Linked DNA regions of Homo sapiens. The protein of the gene in region 4 purifies or fractionates together with the protein of the main gene of each other region. This does not show direct contact. Each region holds a gene or a part of one and is shown on either strand. Other genes may lie near its edges.

Region 1 (3,500 bases), on a different chromosome or scaffold from region 4:
TGATAAGCTCACTGTACTTGTGAGCCTTCTTTAGCACGTGCTCGCTCTCCTCGATGTGGCAGTGATTGTTCTCCAGGCGTAGCAAGGGGGCCACCAGGGCCACATTTGTCTGCAGAAAGAGCAGGAGTTCAGTGGAAACTGCTTCCTGGGGAGCCCCACCCTTCCCTGGCCCAGGCCTGCTCTAGGCTGAAAGGCCAGGAATGTAGCACAAGCAAGAGAAAGCAGACAGCCCTCTTTCAGGACAGCAGGTAGAGGCTTTTAGAGCATTTATGGACCTTCGCACAATGTGTTTTAATGTTCTGTGGGGGAGAACATTTCTTGAAGGAAATACTGTCCCAGCTGACTTTGTAGCACTAACTGCAATCCGACCAGAGAAGATGAATCCACTGTACAATTGTGCATTGATATCTTGCCCTATCCTCTTAATTCCAAGAGACTCACAGACATCAGGAGAAGTCTATATGGTTTCCAGAATCAAAGACTTCACTCTTACTAATGGCAGGTCCCTCAGGGTCTAGCACTCCCTTTTACTTTCCCAGACTGTCAGGGTAACTGGGAATTGTGGCACCCGAGCGCTCAGGTAACTCACATGGAGATAGCACTTGAGCAGGGTGGTGTCGATGATTTGTAGCAGCTTCTTCTTGGATTTGATGGTGGGAGTGCCTTCCATGAGCGGTGAGGTGCTTGACTGGTGATCAGAGTCATTCAGCTTCTTTACCAATTGACTTCGTTTCTGCAAAGGTCAAAATGTGGGGTTAAGGCCAGGACTAAGTCTTCCTTTGTCATCTGAGCTACTGGGTAATTCTGAATACCTCCAATCAGCTCATGCCTATTGGCCTGATCTCACATTAGCATTCGATTTTTAGCACTGCCAAATTGCCACAGAGACAACAACAATTATTTATTGAATATTTACTACAGACCAGGCACCATGCCAAGCACTTTATATATACCATCTTAAACCTAAAACAAGTGCCGATAATATTATCCTTATTTTACAGGTGAGGAACCCAAGGCACAGGTGTCAGCTGCTACATAAGGGGTAGGGCAGGATTCACACTGGGGGCTGACTCCAAAGCCCATGTTCTTTTATTTTTTTAAAAATCAACCTTATTGAGGTATAACTTACAATAAAATCTAATCTTTTAAAGTGTACCATCAGATACATTTTGACAGATGTGTACATGCATGTAACCACCTCAGTGAAGGAAGATAACATTTCTATCACTCCAGAAAGTTCCTCGTGCTATTCCCAAACAATCCCACCTACTGATCTGCTTTTGATCCCTGGAGATGAGTTTCTGCCTATCCTAGAACTTCATCCAGTATGTATTCTCTTGAGTCTGGCAGAGCCCATGGTCTTGCTCTGCCATCTCTCTGGCACAATACTAGTGTCAGTTACTTCACACATTCCCATTGTCAGTGAAGAAGGCCAGGGAAGGACGTGTGCTCACCTTCCTACAGCTAAGACATTGGCAGTGGAGGGCCTTCCACAATGCCACTGGCTTTGGGAGATAGTATGCCCAGGAATCTTTTTTACTTAGCACAGTGTGTGCAGTGTGTAGGCAGTGGCAAGTTTGTGTGCTCCTTGCAGGCTGCCAGCCCCAGGAGGGTACCCCTGGAGCCCAATGTCAAGGAAGGGCCAAGGCCACCCATGCCTGATCAGACCTGCAGGGACTCACTGACCCAGAGGCAGGGAGTGGAAAGTGGCATGACAATTTTTCCAGCAATACTTCTTCTTTTTTTTTTTTTTTTTTGAGACAGAGTCTCACTCTGTTGCCCAGGCTGAAGTGTAGTGGCGCAATCTCGGCTCACTTCCACCTCTGCCTCCTGAGTTCAAGCAATTCTCCTGCCTCAGCCTCCTGAATAGCTGGGATTACAGGCGTGGGCCACCACACCCAGCTAATTTTTGTATTTTTAGTAGAGACTGGGTTTTGCCATGTTGGCCAGGCTGGTTTCGAACTCCTGACCTCAGGTGATCTTCTGTCTCAGCCTCCCAAAGTGCTGGGATTACGGGCATGACCCACCACACCCGGCCAACAGCAATACTTCTCAGTGCCTACCCTAGAGCATTCTGGAGACCTCTTACAAAGATCTGCAAAACACTTAAGAGGAAAAAATATCAATAAGGTCTCTGATTCTGAATGGGTACACAGGAAATAAACAATAGCCTTCTGTGACAGAAATCTAGGGTTAAGAGACTTTAATGGAGATGCTGGCTTTAGTGCTGACTTAAAAAATGTATCTGTCTATAACAGTAAATCATAAAAAATTTTAAATCTAAATACCTCCCTAAAAAACATGTTATATAAGGACATTTATTGATAAGGAAGTACTTTCTCAGTATATGGCTAAATTTTTAAAAAGTTAAGCTATAAAACAATCTACAATTTGATATCCATTTGCAATAAATAAACCAAGAAGTAAATAAACAAAAGCTAATTCATAGATATACAAGTCTAGAAGGACAACACTAAAATGTTAGTTTCTTACATTCTGGTGGTAGAGTTATAGGTAATTTGTATTTCTGCTTTGTACTTTTTTGTGTGTGTTTTCCAAGTGGTTCCACATACAGGAGGCATTTTCCCCAAAACCATGTATATTACAAAAAGTTTGTTTTAAAAAAACTTGTATGCTTCTATCAACTAAAATTTACTTTTTTTAGTTTCTATAACAGCTTTGTGTGAATTTACTAGGAATTGGGTGTGTTTATTTTTATCAAGATTTGGCAGAAAACCCCACCTCAATGGTACTGTAAAGTTAGAAGTAGCAGAAAGAAACTTTACCCCAGGCAGACTTCCTACAGCATTAATTTACAGACTGCCTTGGCATTAGAGAAGGCCCTCAATTCCTTGCCACAAAGAAACAAGTACTGAAACTCCCAGGCAAACTCTTTCACGCACTCTGTACTATACCTACCTGTGTCAGGTAGTCAATCAGAGCTAAGTGAGCCTTCTCCAATTCAGCCCCGGAGAGCACAGGCAATGGGTTGGGATACTGCAACTGCTTTCTGTAGTCTGTGGGCAGCAGGTCAGGGTACAGGCCCATCACATGGGTGGGATCTATATGGAAGGTAAACATGATTCCTCTGGAAAGGAGCCCAACAATTTAGGGATAAAATAAAACAGGACTATTACTATAGCAAAATAAGTTCCAGACTGATTTAAAAAAAAAAAAAAGACTCTCAGTTCATAAACATTCAACGAGCTGTAGACTTATGATTTGAGCACTTTTTATACATATGTTAAAATTCACTAAAACATCACAAAAATGCCTGACTATATTCAAATACACACACATAATTAGAATTGAATATTTATCAAGCCTCTGAAAGTAGAGAATAAAAAATTTCTAAGGAAAAATGCTGATATTGAAGTAGAAGAGATCAAGAGACTCAACAATAAAAAATTTAAGTCAAAAAAAGAAACATTACTAAAAAAAAAGACAACAGGCTAGGGAATATATTTGTAGTATATATGGCAAGAGGCTAATTTGTTGAT
Region 2 (3,500 bases), on a different chromosome or scaffold from region 4:
TGTTTAGCATATCATCAAGAAATAACCATAAAAATGGGCAACCAGCACCAGGCAACCCTCAGGTCTGCTCTGTCTGTGGAGTAGCCATTCTTTTGTTCCTTTACTTTCTTAATAAACTTGCTTTTACTTTATTCTATGGACTTGCCCTGAATTAGTTCTTGTGGGAGATCCAAGAACCCTCTCTTGGGGTCTGGATCGGGACCACTTTTCTGTAACATAACCACTAGAAAAAACAAAATACTTATTTCTGAACTATGAAAGAACAAAAAAAGAAACATTTATTCAAACCAACAAAAAGAAAAGGCTAAAAAAAGCATAAACAAATAAGAATAATTAGTAAATAAAACAAAATGAAATAGCAAGAATGAGTCCAAAAATATCAGTAGTCACGCAAAATATCATCTTTCTTGAAACAAGAAAGATTTAAAATAGTAAGCAGTGAACTCAAAACCTATTAAAAAAATAAAATAAACATGACCCAAGTAGAAAGGAATCAAGGTTAAAAGAACTTATTAAACGGAAATGTACTCCCTATACCGGCTTTTAACAAATTCCTCTGTTAACAGGTCACACCTCACTTCCACCTCCCACAGAACCTCCAATTCACCTTTCAAGACTCTATGGGGCAAATCTATTTGGTTCTTGATGCCATCCTCGTTGGCAGCATTTAGATTTTCACTTCCTCTGCTCTACTAAGTCAAGTTAACACTTTTCCATCTGCTTTAAAACTTCAAAAAAAAAACACAACTCACATTTACTCTTCTCATGTATTCTTTGTCCTTGTATATTTATACTTTTATTCTTTCAATATCATTTTTTGGAGTTTGGAAAATGACAGAAATTTCCATTTCCTTACTTAATATCCATTTTGCCCTACTTTCTCTTACTAAGATTGCAATCTCATTGAGGAGCAATGATATGCTACTTTAAAAATTCATTTATCACACACTTTTGCAGTAGGGATAGTCACATGACATAGTTCAAGCCAATGGGATGCAAGTAGAAGTCACTGGGTGGGGCTTTCCGGGGAAATCCTTGAAGGTGGCATTCATGGAACATGCTGCCTTGACTTTTCCCTTCTTCTCACATGGAATGCAGGCATGATGAAAGTTAGTCAACCATTTTATCTTCATACAGTAACAAGCTCATGATGAGCTTAATGGAGTAGAAAGATGAAAGGAGTTTATGATTCTGATGACATCATAGAGTCACCACCCATGCCCAGTATAGTAAGAAAGTAAAAATTAATTAAGACTGAGAAAGTAAAAAATTGTCAGGCTGGAATAACAGGCACTAATCAGGTCAGCTACAAAATTAACAAAAACAGTATTTCTCCCAAGGACACTCTACAACTATAAAATATTTCAACAATCCCCTTCTTTTAGTGACTGCTATCTTCTTACTCACTGAGAAACTTCGTTCTCTAAATTCAGAAACTATCAGAAACTTTCCTGTCTGAAATTAGATCAGTAAGAAACAAACATTCCACTCTTGCCTAGAGGTTGCACGTCACTTTGACAGAGAGAAGCAGCCTCAATTATACAACCAAGGTGCTGAACTTCAGAGAACTTCTAAGAAACATTTCCCATCTCTTTTAACTTTGTTTCCAAAGGAACGTGACCTTGGTCTACTTCACAGTCCAGACCTAATGTTGGCCCATTTATACACACCCTTGTTTTGCATTGAGACAATCAGAATACTGCTTCCCCTAAATCCCACTCAAACTTCACTCTTCCCCAAATTATATAATAACTCCATATATTCCTTTATTTGGTGAAATTTAGTTTGGACTGAAAAAGTAAAAAATTATCAGGCTGGAATAACTGGCACTGATAAAGCCTGCTATAAAGTTAACCCCATGGTTCCCCTGGTATACTGTCTCCTTCAGGGCAATTAAGTCAACAGACTTAACTTTTTTTCACTACAAGTTTGTCTCTAAAGGTCTTGGGCTGAATAGCCTAGCTCCAGATTTCTTGTCATTTGAAAAGCAAAATCTCTTAAAGTCACTGCTTTCAGGTCATTTTTACTCACAGTAAATTGATGGTAGGAGGTAGATCAAATAGGTTGAAAGTAAAAGAATGAAAAATGAGAGACTATGCAAAAAAATAAAACAGAGTTGGAGCGGCTATGTTAATATCAGAGAAAATCGACTACTGTCCTATTTGGTTTCAATTAGTCTCGAAAGTTCCCTTGGTGATTCTACTGTGACAAGATTTAAGGCCAAGGGACAGCAGTGTTGAGAAGGCTAATAATGGCCAAAGGCAATACACAAAGAAGCTGGGTTTCCCTAAGAGAAAAGGAAGGATTAGGAGCATTTAGGATGCTGGTTCTTTACATGGGGGAATACTGGAGATAAAGACTGCTTTGTTAGCAGTGAAATATGACCCATACTCATGAGCATTCTTTCTCAAGCAAATGTGGCTTGGAGAAAGAGACACACTCGGAACAACTGGCTTATATATCAAATTTTTAGTATTCATCCACAATAAAAGTTATCTCACCGCCTTTAGTCTTTGAGCATGGTATTCTGCTGCTGAAAAATACTTTCCTGGTGTTACCAGTTTATCAGTCATATTTGATACATATACACCAATGTTAGTCATCTGTGTGGATGTTGTATTTGTAGTTTGTTGGAGATTTTTTTTCTGAAAAACTGTCTAAAAGAAAACATTAAAAATTTAAATCAGTATCCCCTATATATATACATAAGGGAGTTTTTCTACATATGTGAGTTCATTTTCTTTTATTAATTGCCATATAATTACTTAAGAGAAATTTGAGAGAGTCATACAGTACAATTATTGAGTCTATACCTTCAAAAACCTAAAGAGACAAATAAAAACATTACCTGCGTATCCCTACAAAATATACTGAGTCTTTCGGGAATCCTTTTAGGTACAGTTTGTGTTCCAGCATTGTGATACTCTACTCCTGTTACTTTATGTCTGAATCCACCAAGAAATGGTTTGTGAAAGTCAGATTTGACAATCTCAACAGGTACCTGCTGGTATTGATCAAGTCCTGAGAGATAACACCAAGATTCAATGAAAGCTCAACCAAGAAGGGACTCAAAAATACTTTATCTAAAAGACATCAAATAACGAACCAGTTTGGACAGTGACAGTTATGATTTGAGAGACATCAGTTAATCCATCTATTCTTCTGACTGGATACAGATCTGGATTTGTAGAAAAGATTTCCACTTGTACAATTTCCTGTGGCTTAACTCCATGTTGTACTAGAGTCTCATTATTTTTAAGAATTTTTCCTAAAAATTGAAATAAAATTTTTAAAAGTTTTATGACAAAGAAATGGCTATTCATTGATCTTATTTTTTGTTTTTAATTGACAAATAAAAATTGTATATATTGTGTACAGCATGCTTTGAACTATGTATACATTGTGAAGTAGCTTAATACAGCTATTAACATGTCCATTACCTCATATACTTATCATTTTGTGGTAAGAACACTTAATATCTATTTTCTTAGCAATTTTCA
Region 3 (2,203 bases), on a different chromosome or scaffold from region 4:
CTGACATCCTGTGACATGCAGCACGGTGCCCACCTGTACCACCCCACAAAGAATCCCCCGGCCCCGTGGTCAGCAGCACCACGATTGTGAGATCCTAGTCGCAGGGCATCTTGAACAGCATCTCCTTTTGACGGCCTGTCTCCCGGCGCAGCGACGTTCTTCTTGGCGCTTGGATTACAAGTGCTTCTGCATTCCCACAACGTTTCCTTACATCTGAGGCTGAAACCTGAGCTGACACGTGTGTGTCAAGCGATTCGTGGAGCACCTGCGCACAGAGTGGGCCAGTGGTGAGGGGTGGGGACTCTTTTCTCCGTGGTGGAGTAGCAGGCTCTCTGCCTCAACCAGTGGTGCCGAGAGTAAAGTCATGACCTGTGCCAATCTCCCTCTTTCCCCCACCTCTCCAGCTCGATACACAGCTCCTCCGTGTACCCAGTTATCCAGGCCAGACAGCTCGGGGTCCTCCCCAACACCCTTGCTCCCCCAGCAGCCTCCTCCAAACCTTCGGTCCCGGGTGAGACTGACCACGGGGTCACTTGTCACAGTCTTCTGCTGGCAGCCAGCTCCTCCAGGGCAGGGTCGCGTCTGACTCTGTCATCTCTGCTTTTCTGGCATGGCACAGGGCAGAGGCTTCATCCTGTTTATCGATGGAGCGAGCCCAGGCTTCCCGTCGTCAGTGCCACTGTGTCTCACAGTGCCTTCCTCACCCAGGGCAAAGGGCATTTAGAACCTGACACCTGACAACCTCCCAGGGTCTCCACCGTCTCACACCCACGCGCTCCCTGGAGGCCACTCACTCAGCCCCTTGGTTGGGAACATAACGAGGAGATGGCATTTAAGGAGCCCAGTGATCTTCGAGCACCTTGAAGGTCATCTTGCCTGTGCTCCACAGCAGCTCCTTGCCTTGGCCCGAGGCCGAGCTCCCTTCCTCCCCCGTGCACGATGCACCAGCCACACCCCCGCCCCTCTGATTCTAGACCAGGCCAAGCTGGACCCCACCCCGGAACCTTTGCACCTGCCATCCCGAGTTCTGGAAAGCTCCCCTCATCCTGGCTTTATGTACCTGCTGCTTCTCAAGACCCGAGGCCTTCCCCATCCTCCATGAGGCATCCTCACTGCCTCCCCACCCACTTGCTCATCATGTCACCTGTTTTCCACACAGCCCTTGTTCCCATCTGGAGGGAAGCGTGTGTTTAGTGTGTAGTCTCCACCCGCCTCCTCCTCATCCTAAGCCCAGCAGGGGCTCCTCATCCCGTATGGTCATGATGACATCCCCAGTACCTAGAAGATGACATCCCCAGAACCTAGAAGGTGCTTGGCATGAAGTGAAGGCATAGAGGGTGTTCCTTGAATGAATGAGACACTAACAGCATTTTTATTGTCTTCCAGAACTTTCCATTTGCAGTGTGCAACAGAAAAAAAAAAATGAAGTAATGTGACTCAAGGCCTGCTGTTTAATCACAGATAAGCTTCTAGAACAAGCCCTGGAATGTGCATTCCTGCCACTGGTTTCAGGATACTCATCAGTCCTGATTAGCCTCCCGGAGGGCCCCAGTTTCCCTCCCGTGAATGTGAAGTTCCCCATCTTGGTGGCCTGCCCTTCAGCCAGTGTCCTAGCAAAGCTGGATGGGGTTGGGCCGGCCCACAGGGGGGACCCCTCCTACCCTTGACACCTCTGTGCTTTGGTAATAAATTGTTTTACCAGAGCTTGAGGAGTCAGTTATCTGTAAAAGTTCTTTTGGGGCCCAGGTGCTGTGGCTCATGCCTGTAACCCAGCACTTTGGGAGGCCAAAACTGGAGGATCACTTAAGCCCATGAGTTTGAGACCAGCCTGGGCAACAGGGTGAAACCCATCTCTACAAAAAATACAAAAATCAGCTAGGCCTGGTGGTGGACGCCTGTAGTCCCAGCTACTTGGGAGGCTGAAGCAGGAGGATTACTTGAGCCCAGCAGGTCGAGGCTGCAGCAAGCCATGATTGCACCACTGCACTCTAGCCTGGGCGACAGAGTAAGACCCTGTCTAAAGAAAAAAAAGGAAGAGAGAAGCTAAACCTGCCTCCCTGAATTTTGTCTTGAGTAACTCAGATCATGCATCATACTTTGGAGTGTGGAGAATCTGAGGCCAGGTAAGGAAGGAAGTGCTCTCAGATACCCTGACTCTCCTGTACTGATAAACCCTGCTCAGGAGAAGCAGGTGGGATCAGGG
Region 4 (3,500 bases):
TGTTCCCAATCTGAAAACACTAGCCTCCTGTGGGTAAGCCAAAAACCTTTCCATGTATGAAATGATGGAAAACAGTGGGTCTCAACCTTTTTGCAGTGCCTCACATCCAGAGGCAGATTTACCAAGCCACTGAAACTTAAGCTTCAGGACTCTTTCTCTTGCACAGATTCTCAAGGCCCAATATCTCATTTTCTGTTTCAAAAAATATTTTCCTTAAAGGAGGCCCTCTGAATTGCATAAGCTTCAAGTGTCAGAGAATCTAAGTCTGCCCCATCCACATTACATAAATGGGGCTTTTATAGTATATGTCACTTGAGAAAATACATAATTCAAAAAGCTACTTTGAATTCAGTAATACTAATAAATTTGTATTTTATTAATCAAAGAAACATCTAATGTTATTCACTGTATAAAATTTGTTTGAACTAAATAGATCTAAATATAATATTTGGTCCACATTTGGATTTTGGATTCTTGTGCTCACAGCAAGTAACTCCACAGTCAACAGGGCTAAATTGAAAAGATCATTACAGATTAAGGTTGCCAGAATTAAAGACATACCTCTAGAAGCTGGTGACCTTTAGAAAAAAACACTTTCTCTGTATTAGTGAAATACAGAGAATGATTCTTTCACAAGTATACACAGTACAGCTTAATGTGCTACCATTTTTCTCAGGCCAAAGTAATAAACCAGGCTCCAGCTGCAGCCACCCTAATTATCCCCCACTGTATTCTTCACCAACAAAGTCAGCTTCTCTCAGCCTGTTTCGGAAAAAACCCAAAGCAGTCATTCAAAGGAACTGGCTTGTGCATAAAGGGAGATGAGGCCTGGAAGGACACTGGGCCAGGAGGAGCCTGGCGCCCTAAGAGACAGAGGGGTAAATGAGGCCCAGAGAGCTACAGGTTATTAGCATAAGAGATTCATTATGAGCAGAGCTAGAATGGAACTGAAATCAATGAAGACTAGATAGAATTTGTTCGTGCAAAGCCTGGGAACCCTTTGATAAAACCAGGTGTAAAGTGTGGGAAGTTTCTAAGGAGAAGGACTTTTTTTTTTTTTTGAGACAGAGTCTCGCTCTGTCACCCAGGCTGGAGTGCAGTGATGCGATCTTGGCTCACTGCAACAGCCACCTCCACCTCCCGGGTTCAAGCAATTCTCCTACCTCAGCCTCCCGAGTAGCTGGGATTACAGGCATGCGCCACCATGCCTGGCTATTTTTGTACTTTTAGTAGAGACAGAGTTTCGCCATGTTGGCCAGGCTGGTCTTGAACTCCTGGCCTCAAGTGATCCACCCACCTCGGCCTCCCAAAGTTGTGAACCATGCGGTGGCACAGGCGTGAACCACTGCGCCCATCCAAGGAGATGGACTCTTTAAGCTAATTGACTTCACAGTAACTAAAGTTCAATAAAGTCTTTAAGGAGACACTATTAATTGCATGTGTAGAGAACTCCATGACATTAATAAAAATGACAGTATCAAAGTATCTCCACTAAGGCATTTATTAACTACAAAGGAAAATATAGTAGTTTCACAATGGAGAAACCCAGCAGAAACTACCTTAACCAAGTGATCAAGGTCAAAATAACCAGTAATAATACATATTGACATCATGAATGCCATGATATGATGCACTGAAAAGGACACAATTATTTCTGTGGTATTCTTGCCTAAACCATAATCTCAGTCCAATCATCAGAAAAATATCAGACAAATCCAAATTAAGGAATATTTGACAAATAGCCCTCAAACTGATATTGATCAATACTCTACAAAAATGTCAAGGTTATAAAAGACAAAGAAAGACTAAGAAACTTTTACAGAATACAGAAGAGTAAGGAAGAAAAACACCTAAAATGCAATGTGAGATTCCAGATAGGATCCTGGAACAGAAAAAGAACAATGCAGCTTGTGCAAGATGGCGAAACCCTGTCTCTACAAAACAAAGAAAATTTTTTTTTGAAACAAAGTTTCTCACTTGTCACCCAGGCTGGAGTAAAATGGCGCGATCTTGGCTTACTGCAACCTCAGTCACCTGGGTTCAAGCAATCCTCCTGCCTCAGCCTCTGGAGTAGCTGGGATTACAGGCGCCTGCCACCACGCCCAGCTAATTTTTGTATTTTCAGTAAAGATGGGGTTTCACTATGTTGGCCAGGCTGGTCTCAAACTGCTGACCTCGGGTGATCCGCCCGCCTCAGCCTCCCAAAGTGCTGGGATTACAGGCGTGAGCCACTGCACCTGGCCAAAAAAAATTTTTTTTAATTAGCCAGGCTAATGCTTGCCTGTAGTCCCAGCTACTCAGAAGGGTGAGGCAGGAGGACTTTTTGAGCCTGGAAATTCAAGCCTGTAGTGAGCTATGACTGTGCCACTGCACTCCAGCCAGGGTGACAAAGCAAGACCCTGTCTTTAAAAATAAAAAAAAAATAAATTACAATTTAAAAAAACTGAAAATAAAAAAGGAAAAATAATAATGGTAGGCAAACTGGTGAAATTCAGGAAAGCTCTTTAGTTAATAGTGTTATACCAATACTATTAATTCCTGGTTCTGATAAATGTATTATGGTTATATAAGATGGTATCATTAGAGGTAACTATTTTTCCAACTTTTCTATAAATTCAAAATAAAAAACATTTTAAATTATGCAAATAATTCACTGAAGAAGATGGAACTTTGGGCCCAAAAGGGATTGAGGCATTTGGGAAATAAATATTTATATGTCTAAAGGTAGATGGACCAAGATTGATTTATAGGAAAAGAAGAGATGTGAACGGGCACAGTGGCTCACGCCTGTAATGCCAACACTTTGGGAGGCCGAGGCGGACAGATCACGAGGTCAGGAGCTCGAGACCAGTCTGGCCAACATAGTGAAACCCCATCTGTACTAAAAATACAAAAATTAGCCGGGCGTGGTGGCATGTGCCTGTAATCCCAGCTACTCGGGAGGCTGAGGCAGGAGAATTGCTTGAACCAGGGAGTCGGAGGTTGCAGTGAGCCAAGATCACGCCACTGCACTCCAGCCTGGCAATGGAGTGAGACTTTGTCTCAAAAAAAAAAGAAGAGACGTTGACGTAGTTTGTGATCCTACAATCCACTGAGGGTTATATGTGAAACCTCTTGGTTTACTGTTTAATATCACAGTATGGCAATTATTGGGTGTTTTATTAGTTCAGAAACCTGTTTCTCAGAGCTAAATGTGCGCAGAATGAATTAACAGAGAAGTTTAAAACTCAGCAACATCGGGGTAAGTAAATGTAAAATGATAGCGGTCTTGTTAGGATGATGAAATTATGGATTTTTTTCCTTTTTTCTATTTTCTAAATTAACTATAATTTATAAATAATCTATAAACTATCATTTCCTTAAAATAGGGGTTTAAACACATTTTCCCTAAAAATAGAGTGAAAGGACTTGAGACCAGAGATAACCGACCATTGAGACCCGTAATATCCTAACAATATGAAAGCTGGTTAATAATTGGTAACTATTTCCTATTTAGAAAC

The links. Proteins that work in one complex are often made in the same cells at the same time.
Region 1: the proteins of USP54 (region 4) and VPS39 purify together in Homo sapiens (affinity purification with mass spectrometry; 2 studies listed by BioGRID and IntAct, with this or other methods). This does not show direct contact.
Region 2: the proteins of USP54 (region 4) and IQUB purify together in Homo sapiens (co-immunoprecipitation; one large-scale study listed by IntAct). This does not show direct contact.
Region 3: the proteins of USP54 (region 4) and VRK3 purify together in Homo sapiens (co-immunoprecipitation; 2 studies listed by BioGRID and IntAct, with this or other methods). This does not show direct contact.

The regions. Positions count from the first base shown.
Region 1 is NC_000015.10:42,166,805-42,170,304, forward strand, and holds part of VPS39 (vam6/Vps39-like protein), read right to left. Parts: intron 3,063-3,500; coding exon 2,920-3,062; intron 734-2,919; coding exon 590-733; intron 110-589; coding exon 1-109. UniProt on the Homo sapiens protein: Regulator of TGF-beta/activin signaling, inhibiting SMAD3- and activating SMAD2-dependent transcription.
Region 2 is NC_000007.14:123,500,096-123,503,595, forward strand, and holds part of IQUB (IQ motif and ubiquitin-like domain-containing protein), read right to left. Parts: intron 3,269-3,500; coding exon 3,107-3,268; intron 3,022-3,106; coding exon 2,849-3,021; intron 2,658-2,848; coding exon 2,502-2,657; intron 1-2,501. UniProt on the Homo sapiens protein: Adapter protein that anchors the radial spoke 1 (RS1) complex to the A microtubule of outer doublet microtubules in axonemes. The triple radial spokes (RS1, RS2 and RS3) are required to modulate beating of the sperm flagellum.
Region 3 is NC_000019.10:49,975,968-49,978,170, reverse strand, and holds the end of VRK3 (serine/threonine-protein kinase VRK3), read left to right. Parts: intron 1-1,386; 3' UTR 1,387-1,703; downstream 1,704-2,203. UniProt on the Homo sapiens protein: Plays a role in the regulation of the cell cycle by phosphorylating the nuclear envelope protein barrier-to-autointegration factor/BAF that is required for disassembly and reassembly, respectively, of the nuclear envelope during mitosis.
Region 4 is NC_000010.11:73,581,343-73,584,842, forward strand, and holds part of USP54 (ubiquitin carboxyl-terminal hydrolase 54), read right to left. Parts: intron 1-3,500.